Linked DNA regions of Homo sapiens. The protein of the gene in region 3 interacts with the protein of the main gene of each other region in a pairwise test. Each region holds a gene or a part of one and is shown on either strand. Other genes may lie near its edges.

Region 1 (7,040 bases), on a different chromosome or scaffold from region 3:
GAAAATCAGTTTATAAACAGTATGAAGTTTTGAAATGTTGGCACCAATAAAAAATGGGAACGGCCGGGTGCGGCAGCTCACACCTGTAATCCCAGCACTTTGGGAGGCTGAGGCGGGCAGATCACAAGGTCAGGAGATCGAGACCATCCTGGCTAACACGGTGAAACCCCGTCTCTACTAAAAGTACAAAAAATTAGCTGGGCATGGTGGCACACGCCTGTAGTCCCAGCTACTCGGGAGGCTGAGGTGGGAGAATGGCGTGAACCCAGGAGGCGGAGCTTGCAGTGAGCTGAGATTGTGCCACTGCACTCCAGCCTGGGTGAGAGTGAGACTGTGGTTCAAAAAAAAATGGGGAACAGTTATCACCAAAATTTAAAGTATATTCATTCATGGTATTGGTTATGACAGTGGCAGTACACGCTGTTGTTACTGGCTTTGCTGACATCAGGCCTGAGGGATACAGAACTCGTTCTATGATTCAGTTACTGAAAACAAAGACCCACCAGAAGGTCTTTACTCCATCTGGGGCACAGTTTGGGTGAGCTTTGCTCATTACCATAGGTAACATTTTAACAACTAAGTCTGAATTCTGAAAATATAAACTCACAAAGGTTAGTGGAAGACTGTTTCCAAGCTAAAAGAAATGTAACTAACTTAGGAAACCATTTAAATAAACATAAACGGACAATCTTAGTGGGTTTTGGCCCTGTGTATACCAGCAGTGTCAGCAGCTCCTAAACCACAAACACAATGAAACCAAAGGGTTTTCTTTCAAAAATCTAAAAAAGGAAGATGCAAGATTTGAAACCAATTTCCAAAATCTATACAAGGCTGCCAGGCCAACAAATAACGGTCAGAGTGACTTTGTTCCTCTGCTCCTTCAACATGGGAACTAGTGCAGAGTGGCTCATGCCCACGGTTGACAGCCCATTTACGGCCACAATCATGTCACCACACCTGGACAAAGAGAGACAGATACAGAATGTTACTATTTTCATGGTATTAAAAATATCCCAATTGAGATTTATGTAGCATGAAAAATGCGGTTTCACTTACCACTGAACTGTCAATGGTTAGGGTGTATAATCTACTTTGTCTGGGACAGCCCTTAAGCCTATGCTGGCTTTCCCTTGCCAATCAAGGAAACCCCTGTGCCGATGACTCCATAACCAGTAGGTGAATGTCAAGGACAAGCAGAGTAATTTTCACACTAATTTAAGCAAAATATAGAGTAAATATGCTCTCTCTTTAAAAAAATACCAAGTCATGCATTTGAAGGGGGTTATTATTTTGACTGCTATTTTTCTATTCATTCTTAGAGCTCATACATCTGAGGGCTGAATTAAATTGGAAATAAGACCCATACTTCCTCTTCTTTCAGCTGTTGACGCTCACTGTACTCTAAGCAGAATTATTATGGATGGATGATGAATTGGAGGACCTTTCCAGCCTTATAATTACCATAATTATCCTTATGGTTTTTGGTCTTCTATTTATACCATAAATATACTATTTTATTGTTAACTACCTCAATTTCTTTTTGGAAGTAGGAGGAATACAAATTATAATTAACAGAGGCCCAGACTGGTTAAGTAACTTAGCTAAGAGAGTGATTAATTCATTTTTCCCTACTCTGTCCTCCTAAAATGATTTTTTTTCATCTTTATCAATATAGGCTGACCTGGAGCATACCACTCCCAATCACCTTTCCATACATTATTTAGATGTCACTTACTCCTTGCAAACAGTGTACATTCTCCATCTGCATAGCATTCTATATAGAATGTCAACATTTACTTTTTAAGAACTGGTTCTTCCTTCGTAAACCAGGTATTAAGAATTTACAATCAACCACCTCCTCTCTGCTGGTGATGATGTCTTGCCATGACACCTTCTCTTTTCTTCTCCCAGTGCCCGGGCTTTGATAAGACGCTGTACACTGAGCGAGGACTTTTGCTCAGTGGTAGAGGCTGGCAGAGGGGTTAAAGTCCAGGGATCTAGAGCCAGATAGTCCTGGGTTTGAATGCCAGCCAACCACTTTCAGCTATTTCATTGTGGGCAAGTTTCTTAACCTTTCCAAGCCTCAGTTATCTTGTTTGTTTTAAAACAGGGATAATAAAGAAACTTACCTCATAGGATTGTTAAAAAGATTACATAATGCATGCACAGCACTTAGCACCGCGCCAGGCATCCTGTAAGCTATTGTACATTCATTCATCAAATATTTATGGAGATCTTACTTTATGCAAGGTATTGTTATGACTGCTAGGGATATAACAATAAATGCAACAAGATCCCTCCCTTATGGAGCTTGCATAAATACGATCTCAGGTAGAGATGAGTGCTATGGAGAAAAATGAAGCAGAGTCATCTAATGACAGGACTGGACCTGAGTAGGCTGTGTGGGAAACTTACTCAGCGCTCAATGTCACATCACAACGTGATGAATGAAATATGTCCAATGAAATAACTCAGGTTCAGTTTCTGTCATCAGATTAATGAAACATAGCTATAAGTGACAAGACAGTAAAGGTAACATTTCAGTCTAGATCGGGATTGGCAAATTTTTTCCGTAAGGGGTCAGATGGTAAATATTTTAGGCTTCAAGACCCATACAGTCTCTGTCATGATGACATCAACTCCGCTGGTGTAGTGTGGGAGCCAGAGAGTACATAAACCAGTAAGTGTAGCTGCACTGCAATGAAACTTTATTTTCAAAAAGATAATGGGCTGGATTTAGTGCTGACCCCTGACCCCTGGTCTAGATCATGTCCAATGTCATCAACATGAATCACATCATTAATTAGAACAAGACTCACTTTAATCTTCCATCATAATAAGCAGGAGTTCCCAAGACAATAGTTTTAATGAAAAAAGGCTGATTGGTGTGGTTCTCTTCATATCCACCAACGATACTAAAGCCCCAACTTCCCAAGTAACTTCTTCGTAAAACTATATCGTGGCAGCTATGAAGTGTGCTATAAACAAACAGAAAAATAAAGAAAAAATTAACATGGAGGCTTTTATAGCCGCTTATTTTTGTTATAACCCCATACCATGTTATATTTACCACTCTTGGAAAAAAGAAAAAGGGCTATTAATAAATAGATTATTTTGACAATCCATCTTCTAGCAGAGACACAGTCCTAGGTAGACTCAAATTTCTCCAACTTTTTTCAGTCTTCCCAAGTGAAGACACACACACACACATACACACACACACACAAGTAGAGAACCTGGTTACAAATTACACCTCAGTAACCTGTACAAAAAGGTCATGTACCTATATCAGCTCACTGCATTGTCAACAAAGTCCTCAATTCTACTAATCACTTTTATCTACAAGAGGAATTACAATGTGGGATGAAAGAGGTCTAGTACTGCCAAGCCCAGCATGCAAATGAAAGAAGAAAAAGATTAGGAACGCAGCTTCCGAAAAGAAGGCAGATAATTATCTCTCTTTTCTAAAGGTCCTATAGGCTTTTAGTCTACATGAGGAGTTATTTGTTATTTTCTCCTTTACTTAGGATGTTTTCATTTTAAGGGAGACTCTAATTGCCAAAATAGAGAAATCAATCTGAAAAACACTAACAAAAAATCTTTTTCTTTTTTTTTCTATCATAGACAAGCTGGGTACAGCGTCATGTGTCTGTAGTCCCAGTTACTGGGAGGCTGAGACAGGAGGATGGCTTGTGCCCAGGAGCTTGAGGCTGCAGTGAGCTATGATCATGCCAACTTGGGTGACAGAGCAAGACCCCATCTTTAAAAAAAAAGAAAATATATACACATCTATACACACACATGCATATATAAATGTATCATAGACACTGAGAAACTACAGTTAGAATGCTACTGCCAGATTGCAGGATGTGTCCAGAGAGGGAGAAAAAAAAAATGTACTTATGTTTCCATAGCTCTATGGATTTGGGAACAAGCAGTGAGTAAAATCTTAAAAACAAAACAAACAAAAAAAGCACACCTAAATGATAAGGAAAAAAAAACTCTTCATAATAAATAAATATCTTTCATCTTTAGGTGAAACTGGATCTAAATGCACGGAAGGCAAGGTTTCCTGTTTTAAATCCATAATAAAATAATAAATATACATAATATAAATAATTAATTTTAAAAATCCTGTTTTATTATTTCTTAATAAAGCCAATTCTATAAAGCAATGTTTACCATGCCAGAACTTCTCATCTTATCTAGTTTCCTAGCTCACTGATAAGAAAGGCTTCTGGGATGGAACAAGGTCCCATGCACTGGCCTGGATTTAAAGGGACAGTGTTGGTTATTTTCCTAATGCTGCATCTTCTGAAACAAACAGCTTTCTTGTATACCCCAGCAAATCGCAGTGGAAGAATCTCCCTTTTCACGAAAAGCAGAGCAGAGCTGCTACACTATGCCGTGTGAAACCTGCATATAGGGGCCACCTGCACCCACTGAGGAGGACACATGGCTGTTGAATATAGCTTTGCATTCAACAGAGACCTCCATACACACATTGAATAGTAGCCTTTTATCGACAGGTATTCTTTCAACACAGGTGGGCTCAAAAACAGATTTTACTATACTGTGTATTTCTCATCTAAAATCTTTGCTATTATGCCTGGCACACCAGAAAATGCTCTGAAAAAAAGAGGTCAATGTGCCAACCTCCAAACTAGACTGGTATATCAGATAAGGAAAATTAAAGGAAGCACTAGGGACCAAGTTTCTCCAGGACGCTGCTGCTCTCTGCCTGCCCCATCATTAGAGGTGCAGACAAGCTCTGAGGTCTGCAACGTGCTGCCCAGCCACTGCACGAGTAGACCACTTCTCACCCACTATGCGCAAAGCGCCTTGAAGCACTATATAAATGCTAGTTGTTGTTATAAATGTATCCCACGAGTCAGGTGGCTCAGAAAATAGCAAATTCTTATTGTTTTATTTTAAAGAATCAATAATTTTCATACTTGGTCAAAAGTCAAAATGCTTCATAGCTTAGTTTTAGGATTCTTAGGTACGGTAAGAATCTAAACGGATTAGACAACAAATGATGATAGGAACACATTCTTCCTATCTCAAATGTCAAACAACAACCGCGGAAAGGAATGTACCCTGGGATGCCACTGGAGGTTCCATGTGCTTCTGTGACCCCGACACTGACCAACCACAGCATATCTTGGCTGGTCACATTTATAAAAAATAAAAGTGAAGCAGCCATTCTTGAACACTAATGGTTTGGCTTAATAGACTCTTGTATCCAATAAAAATTGAGTTTTAAATGCCACCCTTTTTAGCGAGAGTTAAAATAAATTTAAAAAGGTGTTAAGAAAGGCTTCTGGGATGGGGGGAAGCCCCAAGATTGGCCTGGGTTTTCTGATGAAAAATGCATGAAGTCTCAGCACATAGCGGAATGAGTGCTGGTAAACGACAACTTTTCTAAGCAAGAGGCTGGGTTATCCAATCTCATGGCTAGCCCACTGAGGAGCCTTGACAGGAATGGACACAACTGCTTTCTTTGTGTACCTTTTAAAGTGTAATATCCTAAGAAAAATTATCCTTTTCTTTTGTAATTTGATTTGATGTTGCTATTTTACTGAATTAAAGCTTTTTTTTTTATCCCAACGAGTAAATTTATCATGCTACACACTGATAAGGGCTGCAAGCATGATTATGATTTCCATAAAGCAACAAGAAAGCGCTCAGTACCTGGGAAGCCCAAGCCACATGACCCATGATGGGGACCAACTGGCATCATACTCATTTTCGCTGAAAGTACTCGGCTGCTCCTCCGCGTTCTGAGTCGCCTCCTCAACAATCTGGACCTCAAGTGCTTTAAGGGCAACAGCAGGGGACGCGGCACTGGCTTTCAGCATTGCAACTGCCTCACTGTGACTTAAATTGGTCAAATCAATGCCGTTGATATTTAGCAACACATCACCTGTTCAGATGAAGAAACAAGAAAAATGAGCTGAGCCACTGAGTTTTCACCTGCAAATCTTGTTGTTTATAAACTAAGCAACAAAAGTTAGTTCCCCCAACTCTGATGAGATAAGGTATAATAATAAATGGCATTTATTATTTCTTTGTAATTTTTATAATATTGAGAAGAAACCCAATACACAGAAAACATTCCATAATTTTAAAATAATGTCATAATACATAGAAAAAAGTGTGGCCTGAGGCACCTTGACATGATTGGAAGTTCGAATCATCAGTCTGAGTTTAGCTGTGTACAGGCCCTGGGCAGGTTCATTTCTCTTCTTAAGAGTTTCAGAGATTTCTACAATTCTGTCCAATCAAAAATCACTTGATCCTTTGCCCTTAGAAATAAATCTTTAATGTATTCTGCTTTATATTTACACAGTTCTATACATAAGGACAGCCCTGTATAGTTTATTCAGGGCAAACATCAGAATATGTACAAAGAAGCTATCCCTGGGCCCACATGAAGAAATGAAACTTGCGGTTTGAATGTCTTCCCTGTTTCAGGAAGAAAAGAACTGTTGCTCTGCTAAGTAATATAATAAAAAATGGCAATGAGGATTATATCAAAGGTTAGGAAAGGATTAGTTTTGTAGGAAGCAGACATTTGTGCTACAAAGTCTACAGAAATTTATCTCTCCCAATTTATCATCAGTTTTTCAGATTATTAAAGCAAATCATTCTCATTGTAGAAAATTTAGAAAACACAATAAAAGAACAAAAAGGAAATAAAATTACCCCAATACTACAACTGGACAAATAACCTTTACTTAATAGCAGCTTGAGAAATAATTCACATACTATTCAATTCACCCATTTAAAGAACATAATTTTATGGTTTTAATATATTCACAGTTGTGCAATCATCACTACAGTAATTTTGAGAACATTTTAATCACTCCCTCTATACCCATCATTTCCCTTCCCCAACCCTAAGCAACTACTAATCTACTTTCTGTCTCTACAGATTTGCCTCTTCTGAACATTTCATGTAAATGGAATCATACATGGTCTTTTATATCTAGCTTCTTTTACTTGCATAATATTTTCAGGGTTCATCCTTGTAATTT
Region 2 (2,591 bases), on a different chromosome or scaffold from region 3:
CACTCCGATTGCCCAAGCTAGAGTGCAGTGGCACGATCATGCTCACTGAAGCCTCGACCTGGGCACAAGTGATTCTTTGACCTCAGCCTCCCAAGTAGCTGGGACTACAGGCACACACCACCACACCTGGCTAATTCTTATAATTTTTGTAGAGACGGGGTTGTACCATGTTGGCCAGGCTGGTCTTAAACTCCTGGACTCAAGTGATCCTCCCACCTTGGCCTCCTAAAATGCTGGGATTACAGGCAAGAACCACTGCATCTGGCCTGCTTCCATGTTTTTAAGTTACAATTCAACTCTATTGCTGATAAATTTTGTTGTGTAGGAGATGCATGTCTTGGGTTGACTAACTTAAGAGTTACTAGCTATGGAGTCCCACAGAATACTAAAACCATATAGTAAACCAGTCTTCCAGAAGATAATGGATGTTTCAGTTGTAAAGATGTAAATTTGTATTTGAAGTGTTATCATTGGCTAATATAAAATAGATTTTTTACTAGATTAGCAATCAAACAAAAATTTAATTATCGAAAGTCAATTAAGTACTAAAACACACACATACATACACTCCCTCTCTCACACATTTCAAAAATAAGATGCAAGGCACATAAGCAGCATTATATCAAACCAGAATGCATTAGGATATTGATTATATTTAAATAATTATTTTTCTTTTTCCTTCTGTAGGTGACGATGGCTTAATAGAATTTACCACAGTTACTTTAGAGTCTCCGAAAGCATGGCTGGTGGAGGCCTGACTGGGAGGCAGGGGATGCGACTCCTTACTTTGCAAAGGCTCCTCTGAGCCTTTTGCAACACCAGGACTTGATTGGTCAGTTTTCAAGACATAGCCTGATCCAAAGAGTTCTTCCATGAGACTGCTTTTCTTATCTCTGAAAGTTGTATCCTTCACTTTTATTCTGGAAGACTTACCAAATGAGGGCTCATACCCACTGTCAGAATGCTCTAGCTCCATTTCCTCTCTGTTACTGAGATGCTTGCCTGTACTATGACTGTACCTCATGTTGCCGGCATTGGCTGGCCCCCCTGAAGCAGGAAGCCCATGATGCAGGTTTTCAGTTGCTTCTGTGAATGAGTAATGTCTTCTTTGTCTGAGGGGGCCTTTCGTGTAGGGAGCAGTGCCTTTGCCAAGTGTGTCATCCACACCATTTCTCTGCATGCTTCTTTTAAACTTTTCTCTTACTAGAACATCTTCTTGATTGCTTTCTCTTTCAGGATGAATAACTTCAATTATTTTTGGTGGTAGTTCTTGCTCTTCTTTCACAAAAATGTTTTTCTTTTCTTGGTCTTCTTTTTTGTCTTTTTGTCTTCCAGTATTCTCCAGCAGTATTTGGACTTCCAAATGTTTCTCTTCCCCTGATAAATCTATATTAGAAAAATAGGCAATTTAGTGCTGTTTAAAATGAATGGATCTCTATTTCAAGATGGCATGTCTAGTACACTTACGTGCACCGCCTCACAAGCACACTGAAATGACAGAAAAGGTAAGAAAATAGATGCATAGACAAAAGATTACAGAGAAAGGTGCTATTAACAAATGTGTTATGTTACAGTTTCTTGGAACTTCCCAAGCAGATGGGAATTATGAAACCAAAAGAAAAATGACATTCATAGAAGAAGAAATAAAATTTGCCAATAAGGTTATTAATAGATGTTTAACATCACTAACTGGACATACTGCCAGTTGAAACAATGATGGCTGGGTGCAGTGGCTCACACCTGTAATTCCGGCACTTTGGGAGGCTGAGGCAGGAGGACTGTTTGAGCCCAAGAGTCTGAGACCAGCCTGGGCAACATAGCGAAACCCTGTCTCTACAAAAAATACAAAAATTAGCTGGGTGTGGTGGTGTCTGCCTGTAGTCTTGGCTACTCAGGAGGCTAAGGTGGGAGGATCACTTGAGCCCAGGAGGACAAGACTGCAGTGAGCCGTGACTGTGCCACTGCATACCAGCTTGGGCAACAGAGCAGAGCTGTTTCAAAACAAAACAAAACAAAACAGAACAGAAGAACAGAACAGAACAGAACAGGACACAATGAGAACATTTTTCATCCATCCAATTGGCAAATAATTTCTAGAGCTGGTGAGAAGATGGGGAAATTGGAATGTTTGGTCCCCGCTGGTGGGTGTGTTGTTGGTACAGCATTTTTGGATGGCAATTTGGCAGTATCAAGATTTTAGGTGAATATACTCTTAGACCTAACAACTTCTTCTTAGAACGAACCTACAAAAAATAGACAAGGATAAGTGCAACGATGTTCACTGTGGCGTGGGTTAGTAACAATAAAACCTCCTAAACATCTGCCAAAGGAATAATGGTTAAATAAGGTATGGCACGTGCAGTCTGTGGAATTCCAGGCAGTTATTATAGACAATGAGCTGGATCCATGTGAACTGATGGGGAAGGATGTTCCCACTACAGAATATAAGCACATGAGGGCAGGGTTTTGCATTTGCTTCCTCCTGTCTCCCTAATGCCTAGAACAGTGTCAGACACATAGTGCATGCTCAGAAAGTATTTGTCAAATGAATGGATACACTTTCTAGGACACTATGAATTAGGACAATGGAC
Region 3 (7,040 bases):
TCCTTCCCATGCCTCCCACCCCGAGCGCTTTGAGTTGCTGTTGAACCACCTCACCCGCATAGAGTTTGCTCATCTTGCTCTGGCGCTGCTTGTGACCGGAAGGCAAACAGTGGCTTTCTGGGCATCTTCCCTGTCTGTGTCTGTGTCTCTCTGTACTCCTGGCCTGGATTTGAAAGTGACAAGCAGCAGCAGATCTGAAGACCCTCATGCCTTGTCCCCTCCATCCTGACAAGTGACAAAGTCTGGCTTTGTGACATGTGTGTTTGTTTCTTCTGTGTTAAAGGGCCTACAAAGGGAGACATGGAAATCCCCTTTGAAGAAGTCCTGGAGAGGGCCAAGGCCGGGGACCCCAAGGCACAGACTGAGGTGAGGACTGCGGTGCCGGCAGGGACTTCGGGACGCGGCCCCCGGCACAACAGGCCTGGCCACGAGCTCCACAGCCCACAGAGAAGTGTCGGTGCCTGAGATCGGGGTCAGGAGCCAGCGTGGTGCACCCTACCCCACTTGAGCCCCATGTTGGTAGGGTGCCCATGTTCACTGTGCCAGTTTTCCTCCTGGCACTCCTCTGGGGAGCAGCGCTCATCCCCCTTTTGTCCAACTCACACCTCATCTTGGGCATCACCTCCTCCAGGATGACCTCCTGGCTTCCTGCAGCTGCCTGCTCAGTGCCACCCCTCAACATACACTGTGTATGCTGCCCACTCTTGTCTCCCTGACTGGCCTTTCACCTGGCTGTTAGCTGTGTGCACGGGGCCCTCAGAGCGGTGACCATTCACTTGGGCATCAGCCAAGGGCTGGGCTTTGTGCCAGTGCTGGGGACATGATGTGGCCCTCTCTTCATGGGTGACAGGTTAGTGGAAGAAGCAGACCCAAAAAACCCAAGTAGACAAGACACAGAAATACAGTGATTTTGAATTCTGGTGAGGGGAGAAGCCAGCAGAACGCTGAGACGGGAGGTGGCAGGGGGTCCTGTGTCCTCTGTGGAGGCAAGTTCTCACCACCTCACTCTGTCCCCTTGCACAGGGCTCAAGCAAGTGACCACAGTTATCCTGAGCAGTTTCCTGCCCCCTCTTCTCCCTAAAGAGGAGAAAAGCTTCCACGCGAAACCATAAATTAAGAATTTCTGGCTGGGAGCGGTGGCTCACGCCTGTAATCCCAGCACTTTGGGAGGCTGAGGCGGGTGGATCACCTGAGGTCAGGAGTTCGTGACCAGCCTGGCCAACATGATGAAACCGTGTCTCCACTACAAATAGAAAAATTAGCCAGACATGGTGGTGCATGCCTGTAATCCCAGCTACTTGGGAGGCTGAGACAGGAAAATCACTTGAACCCAGGAAGTGGAGGTTGCAGTGAGCCGAGATCGCACCACCACGCTCCCAACTGAGCAACAGAGCAAGACTCTGTCTCAAAAAAAAAAAAAAAAAAATTTCTTTCCTGACCTCACAGCCATATTGTACTTTAAAGTTCCTCCCACATCCTTTTGCCCAGGCATTTGGAGGCGGGGGGAGCATAGTAAGCCCTTTTATGGGCTCTCTGTGCCCTGGGCCTCACTTTTTCCATCTGTAGAATGAGAAGACTGGACCATTTCAGCAGGGATTCTTTTTGCAAAGGGCCAGATAGTGAATATTCTGGACTCTGCGCAATCTCTGCCGTGTTGCTCAGCTTTGCTGTGGAGCACGTAAAAGCAGCATGGACAACATGTAAATGAATGGTTATGGTTGTATTTCAATAAAACTTTATTTGCAAAAACAGGCAGTGGGCCAGTGCTAACCCTTGGTTAGCTGGCGTCTCTCCAGCCCTGGCTTTCTATGGTCCCCTGACTGTTTTGAGAGGTGTAAAGGACCCAGTCATGGTTCTGATTTCCATGCATTGATGGTGAGCCTTGGCAGGCAGGAGCAACTCAAGGAAGAGAACCTGTACCAGTACCAGTCGGAGCCCGTGTCTCCCTCGCCGTGTGGATGGGGTGGCCACACCTTCCTCACCGTGTTTTGAGGAGCGAGTGGCCGGAGGCTCAGTAGGGCCTAGCCTAGTGGACATGCCTGGTGTGACCCCATTTCTGCCCCTTCCTTCCTGGCCTGGGTGACAAAGGGAAGTGGGTGAAAGGAGGTGGGCTGGCAGGGAGCATGGGGTGGGAGAGGGTCGGAGAATCTGGAGGCTGACTGGTGTCTGGCTTGCAGGTGGGGAAGCACTACCTGCAGTTGGCCGGCGACACGGATGAAGAACTCAACAGCTGCACCGCTGTGGACTGGCTGGTCCTCGCCGCGAAGCAGGGCCGTCGCGAGGCTGTGAAGCTGCTTCGCCGGTGCTTGGCGGACAGAAGAGGTGGGTCTGTGTGAGGCTTAGAACAGCCTCTGGAGGGTTGAGCAGCTTGTAATGCTGCTTGCTAACTGAACAACTAAAATCTTACCAAACCTAACGCTGGTGATGCTGTTGGGAAATTTCAGTTTCTGTTTTGCTGGTGGCCTTCTCATTTTAGACACTGTTTCTGGACTTAACATGGGATATTTAACAGACCAAGCCATTTTCATTCTCTTTGGCTTGTGTTGGTATCTCCAAGTGGTAACTATACATCCTGCTTCCCTGCTGGGTTCTGATCCAAACTGAGACATCGATCCTGGGTTCAGCTGAGAGGCAGTTTCCCTGAGGCAAAGCTGGAGACTGTAATGTGGCCTGCAGTCAGAGTGGCCCATGCCCCTGAGCTGATGTCCGTCGAGTCTGGGCAGACCAGCTGAGGGGCTGTGGGCCCACACAGACCTGGACAAGCATGTTCACTTTGGGAGGAGGCAGGCTGACCCTTCATAGATAATCTCTTTCAAACAGAGAGGCAGGGGAGGAAAGGGACGCAGCTCAGGCCAGGGGTGGTGAGTTAGGACGTTGTCCTGCGCAAGGGAAGTGGCTGTCCCTGGTGCCGTGGGGCAGTGTGCTTCCTGAAGGTTCCACGCCTCAGGGAAAGATGAAAGTGGGTGTCACAAAGGTGTTTTTTCTAATGATACCTTTTTTTTCAGATTGTAAGAGTATTTTATGCTTATCATAGAAAACTTGGACTATGTAGAAAACATAAAGATACAAATTACTCATAACCTTGAAGCCCAGAAGCAACTCCCCATATTTTGGTGTATTTCCTTCTGTGTTTGTTGTTGTTGTTTTGAGATGGAGTCTCACTCTGTCGCCCAGGCTAGAGTGCAGGGGTGCGATCTCAAGTCACTGTAACCTCCACCTCCCTGGTTCAAGCAATTCTCCTGCCTCAGCCTTTTGAGTAGCTGAGATTACAGGCGTGCATTACCACACCTAGCTAATTTTTGTATTTTTAGCAGAGACAGGGTTTCATCAGGTTGGCCAGGCTGGTCACAAACTCCTGACCTCAGGGGATCCACCCTCCTTGGCCTCCCAAAGTGATGAGAGTACAGGCGTGAGCCACCATGCCCAGCTTGTATCATATTTTAAGAGTTACATTTATTATACAGAGTCTTCTCTTTGAAAATTAAACTGATGATTTTGAAAAACTAACAGTGGCATTGTTAGCCAGAATTTCTCACCAACCCAGCCTGCTGATTCCAGAGCAGTTGGAATGACCTGGAGGGGGCTCAGGCGGCCCACACGGCTCATTGTTGGGTGCCAGGGATAGCCCAGAGGCTGCTGGGGCAGAGCGTGCAAGGGAGGAGGCCGGTTGGCCCCGTGTTCCCCCAGCTGCACACACCTTCTGATGTGCAGTTGTGCTTTCTGATTTGAAAAGAAATACATGCTCATGTGGAAAATTTTGGAAATGTTCAAAAGGAGAAAAACATCCAGACCCCCGTGCCAGTCCTCCTGCCCTCTGCTTGGTTGTGCCAGTGTCCCAGGCCGTTGGGGGTAAAGGGAGGAAGGCAGCTGCTGACCAGCGGTAAAACCTGCTCTCCCTCTCCCCGCTGTCCAAGCCTTCCTTAGAAAGGGCTGGGCTGTGTGTGAGACAGAGGAAAGCTCTGTAGACACAGGGGTGGCCCTGCCAGTGCACCCAGGCTGGTGACTGCAGTGAGTCCACCCTGGGTTCAAGACAGCTCTGCCTCTTTCTGACTGTGTGACCTTGAGTGAGCCAGAACACAGGCCTGTGCCTCCGGGTCTGCACCTCTGAGAGAGGGGAGGAACAGGAAGAGGCTGCCTTCTTCCCGCCAGCATGTAGGGGGCACTTGGGGGCGTCTGGTGGGAGACCAGTCTGGCCTCCCAGCTGGAGAGTGGGCGTGGCGCGATGTCCTCTTGAGTCAGATGTCCATGCATCCTTCCCTGGTAACCAAGTCCTGACACCTTCTATGAGTCTCGCTCGAAAGCCTTCCAGGCAGAGTTGGCAGGGTCAGAGTGGCACCGAAAGCCTAGGCAGGGCACACAAGGCCTTTGACCACATCCTATCCCTCAGGCATCACGTCCGAGAACGAACGGGAGGTGAGGCAGCTCTCCTCCGAGACCGACCTGGAGAGGGCCGTGCGCAAGGCAGCCCTGGTCATGTACTGGAAGCTCAACCCCAAGAAGAAGAAGCAGGTGGCCGTGGCGGAGCTGCTGGAGAATGTCGGCCAGGTCAACGAGCACGGTGCGAGGATTCACCCTGGGCACCAGCCTTCCCTGGGCGCCAGCCTTCCCACAGGAGCCAGGACCTTCCCATAGGGGCTGGGACCTTCCCTCAGGGGCTGGGTCTTCCCACAGGAGCCGGGACCTTCCCTGTGAGGACAGGGCCCTTCCTTGTGGGGACCAGGGGACCAGAACCTTCCTGTAGAGACCGTGCCCTAGTGGTGAGGTGTGTGGGTGGCATTTTGACAGCATCTGCCCTGGCTCAAGTGCTCACTCATTGAATAAACCAGAGGGTATTCTGCCCAGTGCTCTGTGACCACGTCTACCAATGGGACGGACTGTGTCCATCACCAAGTGGGAGCACGCTACGTGGTGCTGAGTCCACCCCAGCTACTGGAGGTACAGAGGTGTGGCCCCTGCTCTGCCTGCCCTGGGGGCCCTATGATCCCCAGAACGTAGGATGCCCCTGGAACTGGCGTGCCCTAGGAACAGTGCGCCAGTTTCTGGTGGGCTGCAGGGCACGAGGAGATAGTCAACTTGTCTGACTGTTAATCCACCCTGTCCCCTGCAGATGGAGGGGCGCAGCCAGGCCCCGTGCCCAAGTCCCTGCAGAAGCAGAGGCGCATGCTGGAGCGCCTGGTCAGCAGCGAGTGTGAGTGCAGCCCCTGCCCCGTCTCACCCATGCCTCCCAGCCTGCACCTGCAGGGCGACCTCTCCTTCCTGTGCGACTCCATCCTGGCCTGCCCTATCTCACCCGTGCCTCCCAGCCTGCGCCTGCAGGGCGACCTCTCCTTCCTGTGCGACCCCATCCTGGCCCTGCTAGGATCTCAGGCGGTCCGTTTGGGGCTCAGTGTTCTGGACGCTGGGAGTAGACCCTGCCCACCTGGAGCGCACGCACTGGAGGGAAGGCAGACCCAGGACAGAAACCATGATGTGCCAGTCCCTCTTGGACAAGGAAATACTGGGGGTGGGGACTGGCGGGGGGGTCCTGAGTGGGGAAGGATGAGGAGGGCATTAGGGGAAGGGGCTCCGGGCAGAGGGAACAGCATGAGCAAAGGCCCAGGAGACCCAGCAGGGTGTGGAAGGGGCTCTGCCCCAGCGTAGGCCCTTTGTAGGTAGGCAGGGAACAGAGTGGGCAGAGCCTAGGTTGGGGGATAGAGTCTCTGGGGCACACTGAGCTGGGGGTGCCTCTGGGATGTTTGTGGTCAAAGACTGAGAAGAGACGTCACATCCTCCACGTGCAGCTGGCCAGCCTCACTGTCTTCCATCCACGTGGGGTAGACTCTGCAGTCTGAGGCACTGGGAGCTCCTGTCCTGGAGAAGATAGACAGGCAGGAGGCTTGGGGGCTCAGTATCAATGGGGGGATGGGCCAAGACCCAGGTCTGCCACAGACTCTTCTTGTGACATGGGCAGGTCTCATTTTTCTTTCTGGGTGTCAGTTTCCCCTTCTGAACAGTGAGATGATCAGACAAGGGGACTGAAGGACCTCGCCCATCCTAGAAGCCTCTGTGGCATGTAGGGCAGAGTACAGGTGGGAGCACAGATCCCACCTTCCCACTGGGCCCGTGAGGAAACCGTCCATAGGGTGTGGTCAGAGCCCTCGCCTCTGCGTGGGCGGACATGGGTGCTTGCGCTGCTGTTTTCCTGCTCCATTTGGGGGAGACAAAGAAACACCTCACATGGAAGTGGGAAGAAATCTGTGACTCTAGGAAGCCCGAGGACCAGAGAGGCTGTGACAGTGTCCTGCCACCGAGGTGGCATGGTGCCTGCTGTCCTGAAGTGAGGTGCCTCTGGGCAGGAGCAGCCCAGCCTGGGTCTCCATCCTGGGGGGCACTGCAGGCAGAGTCTGGACCCCAACCTCACTTCCCAGTCCCACAGGGGTTTGTGATGAGCCGGGCACACCTGCTGCTGGGCCCTGTCGCTGTTGCTGGGGGCGAGTTAGGAGTCAGCGCTGCCAGCCTGTGGTCCCCTCCGCCAGGCCCTCAGGGACAGGGCCCCAGCACCCCCATTGTTTCCCCTCTATCAGAACGTTCCCATCAGGCATCATCTGTTTCTCTGCCAGCTTTTCCAACAGAACTCCCAGAAAGGGGCGTCTGTCATCCCCTTCTCTCGTCCTCCGTCCTTTGCTCTCAGGCCTCTGCCATGTTATTCCACCAAAGCGGCTCGTCTAGGCCATCAGTGACCCCCCTTGCTCAGTCACTTCTTGTCCTTGTCTGACTTGATCTGTCAGCAGCGTGGGCAGAGATGACTGCTCTTCTCCTTAGAGCCCTCTCCCCCACCAGGCCCGGGGCCCTTGCTGCCACACTGGCTGCTCCTTCTTGGGGTCCCTAGACTGATGTCCTGTCTCTCAGGACAGGACATCCTGCCCAAGGTATTCATCCCTATGAGGACAGGGGCCTTCCTTGTGGGGACCAGGGTCTTCCCGTAGGGACTGTGCTCTGGTAGGGAGATGTGTGGGTGGCATTGGTGACCACTCTCGTGTGTCAGACGCCGTCCTGAACCC
Region 4 (7,040 bases), on a different chromosome or scaffold from region 3:
CCTCCAAGGAAAATCACAGCACAGGATACACGTGGCTGGGTGCCTTGGAACTCTCCCGTCTGATGCCACCTCCTCACCACTCAGCCCCCCACCTGCTCTGAGGGCACTGTCTCGGTGTCATCTCCATCCGTCTTGCTCTCTGTGTTTCCACGCTGACCCCTTCCTTTGTTCCCTGGTGCCACAGCGTCTGTGAGCGCACAGCCAGACCTCTCCCCGTTCACCACAGGGTCATCCTCAAGATCGTCAATGTTTATCTGGAAAAACAGGTTGGAGAAGAGCCAGGGCGTTACTTACAGTGTGAACGCTCATGCTGAGATATGAATAGTGAGATGTGAACGGGCTTGCGTTGGGGACCCCCAGGGTCAGTGCGAGACGCTGGACGGGAAAGATGCAAGAACCCGAGACTGTTGGACACAGCAGTGACTCAGCTCTGGCTCAGGGGGACTTTGTCAGCAGCTCTACAGAAAGCCGGGGCCCCGAGGCTATGGGGTATCTCTGCCTTCAGAGATGAGGTAAGGAAGACTCCTCAAATATTGTAATTTACTCCATTTACAGAGGACCATCTGCAGGACAAAACGTTAAATATATATATTCAGCCAATGCATTAAAGTTCCTTCTTCCTCCTTTCTCCTCAAGCCTCAGCTCCTCTCCAGCAGCAGGCAGGAAAAAAAGGCACCAAGGACCCATCAACCTACAAACTTTTCCTAATGAAAATGATAGGCCAGGCGAGGTGCTCGCGCCTGTGATCCCAGCACTTTGGGAGGTTGATGCAGGCGGATCACTTGAGGTCAGGAGTTCAAGACCAGCCTGGCCAACATGGCGAAACCCTGTCTCTACTAAAAACACAAAAATTAGCCAGGCACAGTGGCAGGAGCCTGTAATCCCAGCTACTTGGGAGGCTGAAGTGGTATAATCGTTTGAACCCGGGAGGCAGAGGTTGCTGTGAGTCAAGATCGCACCACTACCCTCCAGCCTGGGCAACAGAGCAAGACTCCATCTCAAAATAGAAAAACAAAATGACATACGATAAAAATAATTCATACGATGAAACCTTCTCTCTCTCTTTTTGAGACAGAGTCTCGCTCTGTCATCCAGGCTGCAGTGCAGCAGTGTGATCTTGGCTCACTGCAGCCTTGGCCTCCTGGGTTCAAGCATCCTCCTGCCTCAGCCTCCCAAGTAGCTGGAACTACAGGCGTGAGCTACCATGCCTGGCTAATTTTTTAAATTTTTTTGTAGAGATGGGGGTCTCAACACATTGCCCAGGCTGGTCTTGAGCTCCTGACCTCAAGCGATCCTCCTGCCTCAGCCTCCCAAAGAGCTGGAGTTACAGGCGTGAGCCACCACGCCAAGTCTGGAACCTTTTTATAGCAGTGAGAATGAATGAATGAATGAACCACCACTGAACACACAATATGGATGAATCTTAGGAGTATAATATTAAATGGATAAAACCTCACAACATACATTCACATACAGATTGGAGGGGAGACAGGCAGTGGGAGAAGGGTAAGAACAGGAAAAGTTCTGGCTCCTCAGCTAGTGAGAGGCTGACCGGGCACGGTGGCGGTGCACCCCTGTAATCCCAGCACTTTGGGAGGCCGAGGTGGGTGGATCACGAGGTCAGCAATTCAAGACCAGCCTGACCAACATGGTGAAATCCCGTCTCTACTGAAAATAAAAAAATCGGCCAGGTGCAGTGGCGCGTGCCTGTAATCCCAGCTACTCGGGAGGCCGAGGCAGGAGAATTGCTTGAATCCGGGAGGCAGAGGTTGCAGCGAGCCAAGATTATGCCACTGCACTCCAGCCTGGGTGATAAGGCGAGATTCCATTTCAAGAAAACAAAAAAAAAAGAGGCTAACAGATTGGGTGTGGTGGCTCATGCCTATAATCCCAGCGCTTTGGGAGGCTGAGGCAGGAGGATCATCTGAGCCCAGGAGCTTGAAACCAGCCTAGGCAATACAGTGAGACCCCATCTCTACAAAAAATTAGCAGGGTGTGGTGGCACACACCTCTTGAGTCCCAGCTACTCAGGCGGCTGAGGAGGACTGCGTGAGCCCAGCAGTCCTGGAATCTGGAACCTGGAGTGAGCCATGATCACACAACGGCACTCCAGCGTGGGCAACAGAGCAAGACTCTAGCTCTAAATTTTTTAAAAAAAAAGCTAACAGAGACCAGCATCAACAATTCTTTATGAACTAGGAGATTCTGATGGATCCAATCGGATGCACTAAGGTTCAAAAATAAATAAAACTGCCTGTTTAATTTAAAACATCTTGAAAACCACAAACCTCAGAAAACACAATCAGCTCCAAGCCCCATAGCCCTGAGATAGTTTCTGAAACAGAATTGAGACTCGGCTGCACCTGGGAAGACAGACACCCCGGCTGCGGTTGCTGAAGAGAAGAAAGCACAGGGCAGGTCTGTGCTTGCCGGTCAGTCGGCTTTCTCTCCAATGGAGGCTCCCACATGACAAGGATACGATTCAGGAGCATCTTAAACGCCCGCTGAGACAAGTCAGGAGCAACTTACGCCCGTTGAGAAAATCCATGGCAGTATAGACGTGTTATGTAAACAGAGCCCCTAACTTGAAAACACTGACACTCCACCAAAACGAGGTTTGTCCCATCCCAGCAGCACCATGATGGTGATTCTCATGGTGATGCCTCCTTCTGCCTGGCCTTTGCTGGCGAAGCTGGGGCCTAGGCATGGGCCGGCTGCCTTGCACCCTGCAGTAAAGGAAGAAAGCTGAAACAAAGCCTATTGTTGAAATGTTTCTAACCTGTGGGTGGTCACTGGTAAATTGGATCTACACCATCTCCAACATTCAACTAATGATGATGTCTCTTAGTGAAGCTGGGTGCTGGTTTACTTGTCTGTTTTTAGAGATAGGGTCTCACTGTGTTGCCCAGGCTGGCCTCAAATTCCTGTGGTCAAGGGATCCTCCTGCCTCAGCCTCCCCAGGAGCTGGGACTACAGGCACACGCCACAACACCCAATTTACTTTTTTTTTTTTCTTTTTTTGAGATGGAGTCTTGCTCTGTTGCCCAGGCTGGAGAGCAATCGCATGATCTTGGCTCACTGCAACCTCCGCCTCCCGGATTCAAGTGATTCTCCTGCCTCAGCCTCCCGAGTAACTGGGACTACAGGCATGTGCCGCCATGCCAGGCTAATTTTTGTATTTTTAGTACAGATGGGGTTTCATCATGTTGGCCAGGCTGGTCTCGAACTCCTGACCTCAGGTGATCTGCCCGCCTCAGACTCCCAAAGTGCTGGGATTACAGGCGTGAGCCACCGCGCCCGGCCAACACCCAATTTACTTTTATTAACTCATGCTGACTTCCTAAGAAAAAAAATTCTTATTTTGAGGTGTTTGACAAATCGAATTCATAAAAAGCTCTATGCCAAGCTGAACTTCAATGGAAAGGAGCCTGTGTACACGGACAGCACGCGTGATGGGCTCAGGAGCCTGCCTGTGTACACAGACAGCACACATGATAGGCCCGGGAGCCTGTCTGTGTACATGGACAACACGTGTGACAGGCTCTGAAGCCCATCTGTGTACACGGACAGCACGTGTGATGGGCTCAGGAGCCTGCCTGTGTACATGGACAGCACGCGTGATAGTCCTGGGATCCTGACTGTTTACAAAGACAGCACACATGATAGGCCCAGGAGCCTGTCTGTGTACACGGACAACACGTGTGACAGGCTCCGAAGCCCATCTGTGCACACGGACAACACGTGTGACAGGCCCCGAAGCCCATCTGTGCACACGGACAACACGTGTGACAGGCCCCGAAGCCCATCTGTGCACACGGACAACACGTGTGACAGGCCCCGAAGCCCATCTGTGCACACGGACAACACGTGTGACAGGCCCCGAAGCCCATCTGTGCACACGGACAACACGTGTGACAGGCCCCGAAGCCCATCTGTGCACACGGACAACACGTGTGACAGGCCCCGAAGCCCATCTGTGCACACGGACAACACGTGTGACAGGCCCCGAAGCCCATCTGTGCACACGGACAACACGTGTGACAGGCCCCGAAGCCCATCTGTGCACACGGACAACACGTGTGACAGGCCCCGAAGCCCATCTGTGCACACGGACAACACGTGTGACAGGCCCCGAAGCCCATCTGTGTACACGGACAACACGTGTGACAGGCCCCGAAGCCCATCTGTGTACACGGACAACACGTGTGACAGGCTCCGAAGCCCATCTGTGTACACGGACAGCACGTGTGACAGGCCCAGGAGCCCGTCTGTGTACACGAACAGCACGTGTGACAGGCTCTGAAGCCCGTCTGTGTACACGGACAACACGTGTGACAGGCCCCGAAGCCCATCTGTGCACACGGACAACACGTGTGACAGGCCCCGAAGCCCATCTGTGTACACGGACAGCACGGGTGATAGGCCCAGGAGCCCGTCTGTGTACACGAACAGCACGTATGACAGGCCCCGAAGCCCATCTGTGTACACGGACAACACGTGTGACAGGCTCTGAAGCCCATCTGTGTACACAGACAGCACGGGTGACAGGCCTAGTTTTGCTTCTTCAGTGAAGTTTTGGTGATGACACATGATTTGCTGCAATCTCTACTGCCATGCATCAGCTCTAAAATGCTGTCAATCACCGTCAGACAAACCTTATTACTGGCTGGGCGCGGTGGCTCACGCCTGTAATCCCAGCACTTTGGGAGGCAGAGGTGGGCAGATGGCGAGGTCAGGAGATCAAGACCATCCTCGCTAACACGGTGAAACCCCGTCTCTACTAAAAATACAAAAAAACTTGCCGGGCGTGGTGGTGGGCGCCTGTAGTCCCAGCTACTCAGGAGGCTGAGGCTGGACAATGGAGTGAATCCAGGAGGCAGAGCTTGCAGTGAGCTGAGATGGTGCCACTGCACTCCAGCCTGGGCGACAGCGCAAGACTCCGTCTCAAAAAACAAAACAAAACACCTTATTACCTACCCAAAAGCTGTGATTTTCATTAGTTTTAGGGTCTCAAATGGGGAACATTTCACAAGGTTCTTGTCCACGACTGATCTTCTTTAGGATAAAGCTCGATCAGCATTTCAGTTAATAACCAGGAAGGAGTTTTATCTTTTTTTAGGGGGAGAGGAAAATGTCCATTTTTCCTAAAAAAAAAAAAAAAAAAAAAAAATGGTGATTTTTAATAGAGACGGAGTTTCACCATGTCGGCCAGGCTGGTCTCGAACTCCTGACCTCAGGTGGTCCACCCGCCTTGGCCTCCCACAGTGCTGGGATTACCGGCATGAGCCACCGCACCCAGCCTGAGGTTGTCTTTTTTTTTTTTTTGAGACAGGGTCTCACTTTGTCACCCAGGCTGGAGTACGGTGGCGTCATCTCACCTCACTGCAGCCTCGACCTCCTGGGTTCAAGCCATCCTCCCGTCTCAGCCTCCCGAGTAGCTGTGACCACAGGTGAGTGCCACTATACTTGGACAGTTTTTTTGTATTGTTTGTAGAGATGGGGTTTTGCCACATTGCCCAGGCTGGTCTCACACACCTGAGCTCAAGTGATGGATCTGCCTTGACCTCCCAAAGTGATGGGATTACAGGTGTCAGCCACCAACCCTAGCCTGGAATGTTTTATACTTTAAAAAATTCAGTATCTTTAATAGATAAAAGGGCTCAGATTTTTTTATTTCTTCACATGTCAATTTAGATAAGTTTTATCTTTAAAGGAACTTGCCCATTTGTCTAATCTGGAAAATTTATTAGCAAGAAGTTCCTTATCGCCCGTTACTATCTGCACCATCTGTACCTGTGAACACTCCTCTCCCATCCCTGAAAATGGTAACGTACCTGGACCTTCCCTTTTTCCCTCCATCAGTCAATCTAGAGTTTTTGCCAACTCGTCTTTTGAGAGAACCAAGTTTCGGTCTCACCGATTCTCTCCATCGTGTCCATACTCTATTCTGTGCATTCCCCTCTTTGATTAGTTTCTTCCTTCGACACATTTTGAGTTTAATTTGCTCTTTTTCTAGTTTAAGGTAGAAGTTTCAGGTAAATTTCTAGATTTTTAAACACTTTTCTAATTTAAAATTTACGATGATAAAGTTCTAATCATCGTTTCAGTTGCATCCCACAAATTTTGATAGGTTGCTATTTTCATTACCAATCAGTTCAGAAAAGATTCTAGGCCAGGCATGGTAGCTCACATCTATAATCCCAGCACACTGGCTTTCAAAAAAAATTGAAAAAATTAGCCAGGTGTGGTGACACCCACTTATAGTTCCACCTACTTGGGAGGCTGAGGTGGGAGGATGGTTTGAGCCCAGGAGTTCAAGATTACAGTGAGTTATAATTGTGACATTGAACTCCAGCCTGGGCAATAGAGCGAGACTCTGTCTCCAAAAAACCAAAACACACACACACCCACACACAGCAAAAACTGACAGGGTTGAAAGTAGAAATAGACAAATCCATAATTATTATTACGATTTATTTATTTATTTATTTATTTATTTTTTTGAGACAGAGTCTCGCTGTATTGCCCGGGCTGGAGCCTGGTGGCACAATCTCAGTTCATTGCAACCTCCACCTCCTGGGTTCAAGCAATTCTCCTGCCTCAGCCTCCCAAGTAGCTGGGATTACAGGCACCCACCACCATGCCTGGCCAATTTTTTTTTTTTTTTTTTTTTTTTTAGATGGAGTCTCGCTCTGTTGCCCAGGCTGGAGTGCAGTGGCACGATCTCAGCTCACTGCAAGCTCCGCCTCCTGGGTTCACGCCATTCTCCTGCCTCAGCCTCCTGAGTAGCTGGGACTATAGGCTCCCGCCGCCACACCCGGCTAATTTTTTTGTACTTCTTTAGTAGAGGCGGGGTTTCACCGTGTTAGCCAGGATGGTCTGGATCTCCTGACCTCATGATCCGCCCACGTCGGCCTCCCAAAGTGCTGGGAATACAGGCATGTGCCACCACGCCTGGCCCAATTTTTGTATTCTTAGTAGAGATGGGGTTTCACCATGTTGGCCAGGCTGCTCTCGAACTCCTGACCTCAGGTGATCTG

The links.
Region 1: the proteins of WFS1 (region 3) and LNX2 interact in binary tests that used the Homo sapiens proteins (3 or more experiments, as listed by UniProt).
Region 2: the proteins of WFS1 (region 3) and LCA5L interact in binary tests that used the Homo sapiens proteins (3 or more experiments, as listed by UniProt).
Region 4: the proteins of WFS1 (region 3) and TCF25 interact in binary tests that used the Homo sapiens proteins (3 or more experiments, as listed by UniProt).

The regions. Positions count from the first base shown.
Region 1 is NC_000013.11:27,547,514-27,554,553, forward strand, and holds part of LNX2 (ligand of Numb protein X 2), read right to left. Parts: intron 5,927-7,040; coding exon 5,695-5,926; intron 2,979-5,694; coding exon 2,820-2,978; intron 958-2,819; coding exon 822-957; 3' UTR 1-821.
Region 2 is NC_000021.9:39,405,227-39,407,817, forward strand, and holds the end of LCA5L (lebercilin-like protein), read right to left. Parts: exon of another isoform or gene 2,567-2,591; intron 1,506-2,566; exon of another isoform or gene 1,387-1,505; coding exon 656-1,386; 3' UTR 502-655; downstream 1-501.
Region 3 is NC_000004.12:6,286,810-6,293,849, forward strand, and holds part of WFS1 (wolframin), read left to right. Parts: intron 1-283; coding exon 284-366; intron 367-2,177; coding exon 2,178-2,322; intron 2,323-4,387; coding exon 4,388-4,558; intron 4,559-5,107; coding exon 5,108-5,188; intron 5,189-7,040. UniProt on the Homo sapiens protein: Participates in the regulation of cellular Ca(2+) homeostasis, at least partly, by modulating the filling state of the endoplasmic reticulum Ca(2+) store.
Region 4 is NC_000016.10:89,876,565-89,883,604, reverse strand, and holds part of TCF25 (ribosome quality control complex subunit TCF25), read right to left. Parts: intron 255-7,040; coding exon 93-254; intron 1-92. UniProt on the Homo sapiens protein: Component of the ribosome quality control complex (RQC), a ribosome-associated complex that mediates ubiquitination and extraction of incompletely synthesized nascent chains for proteasomal degradation.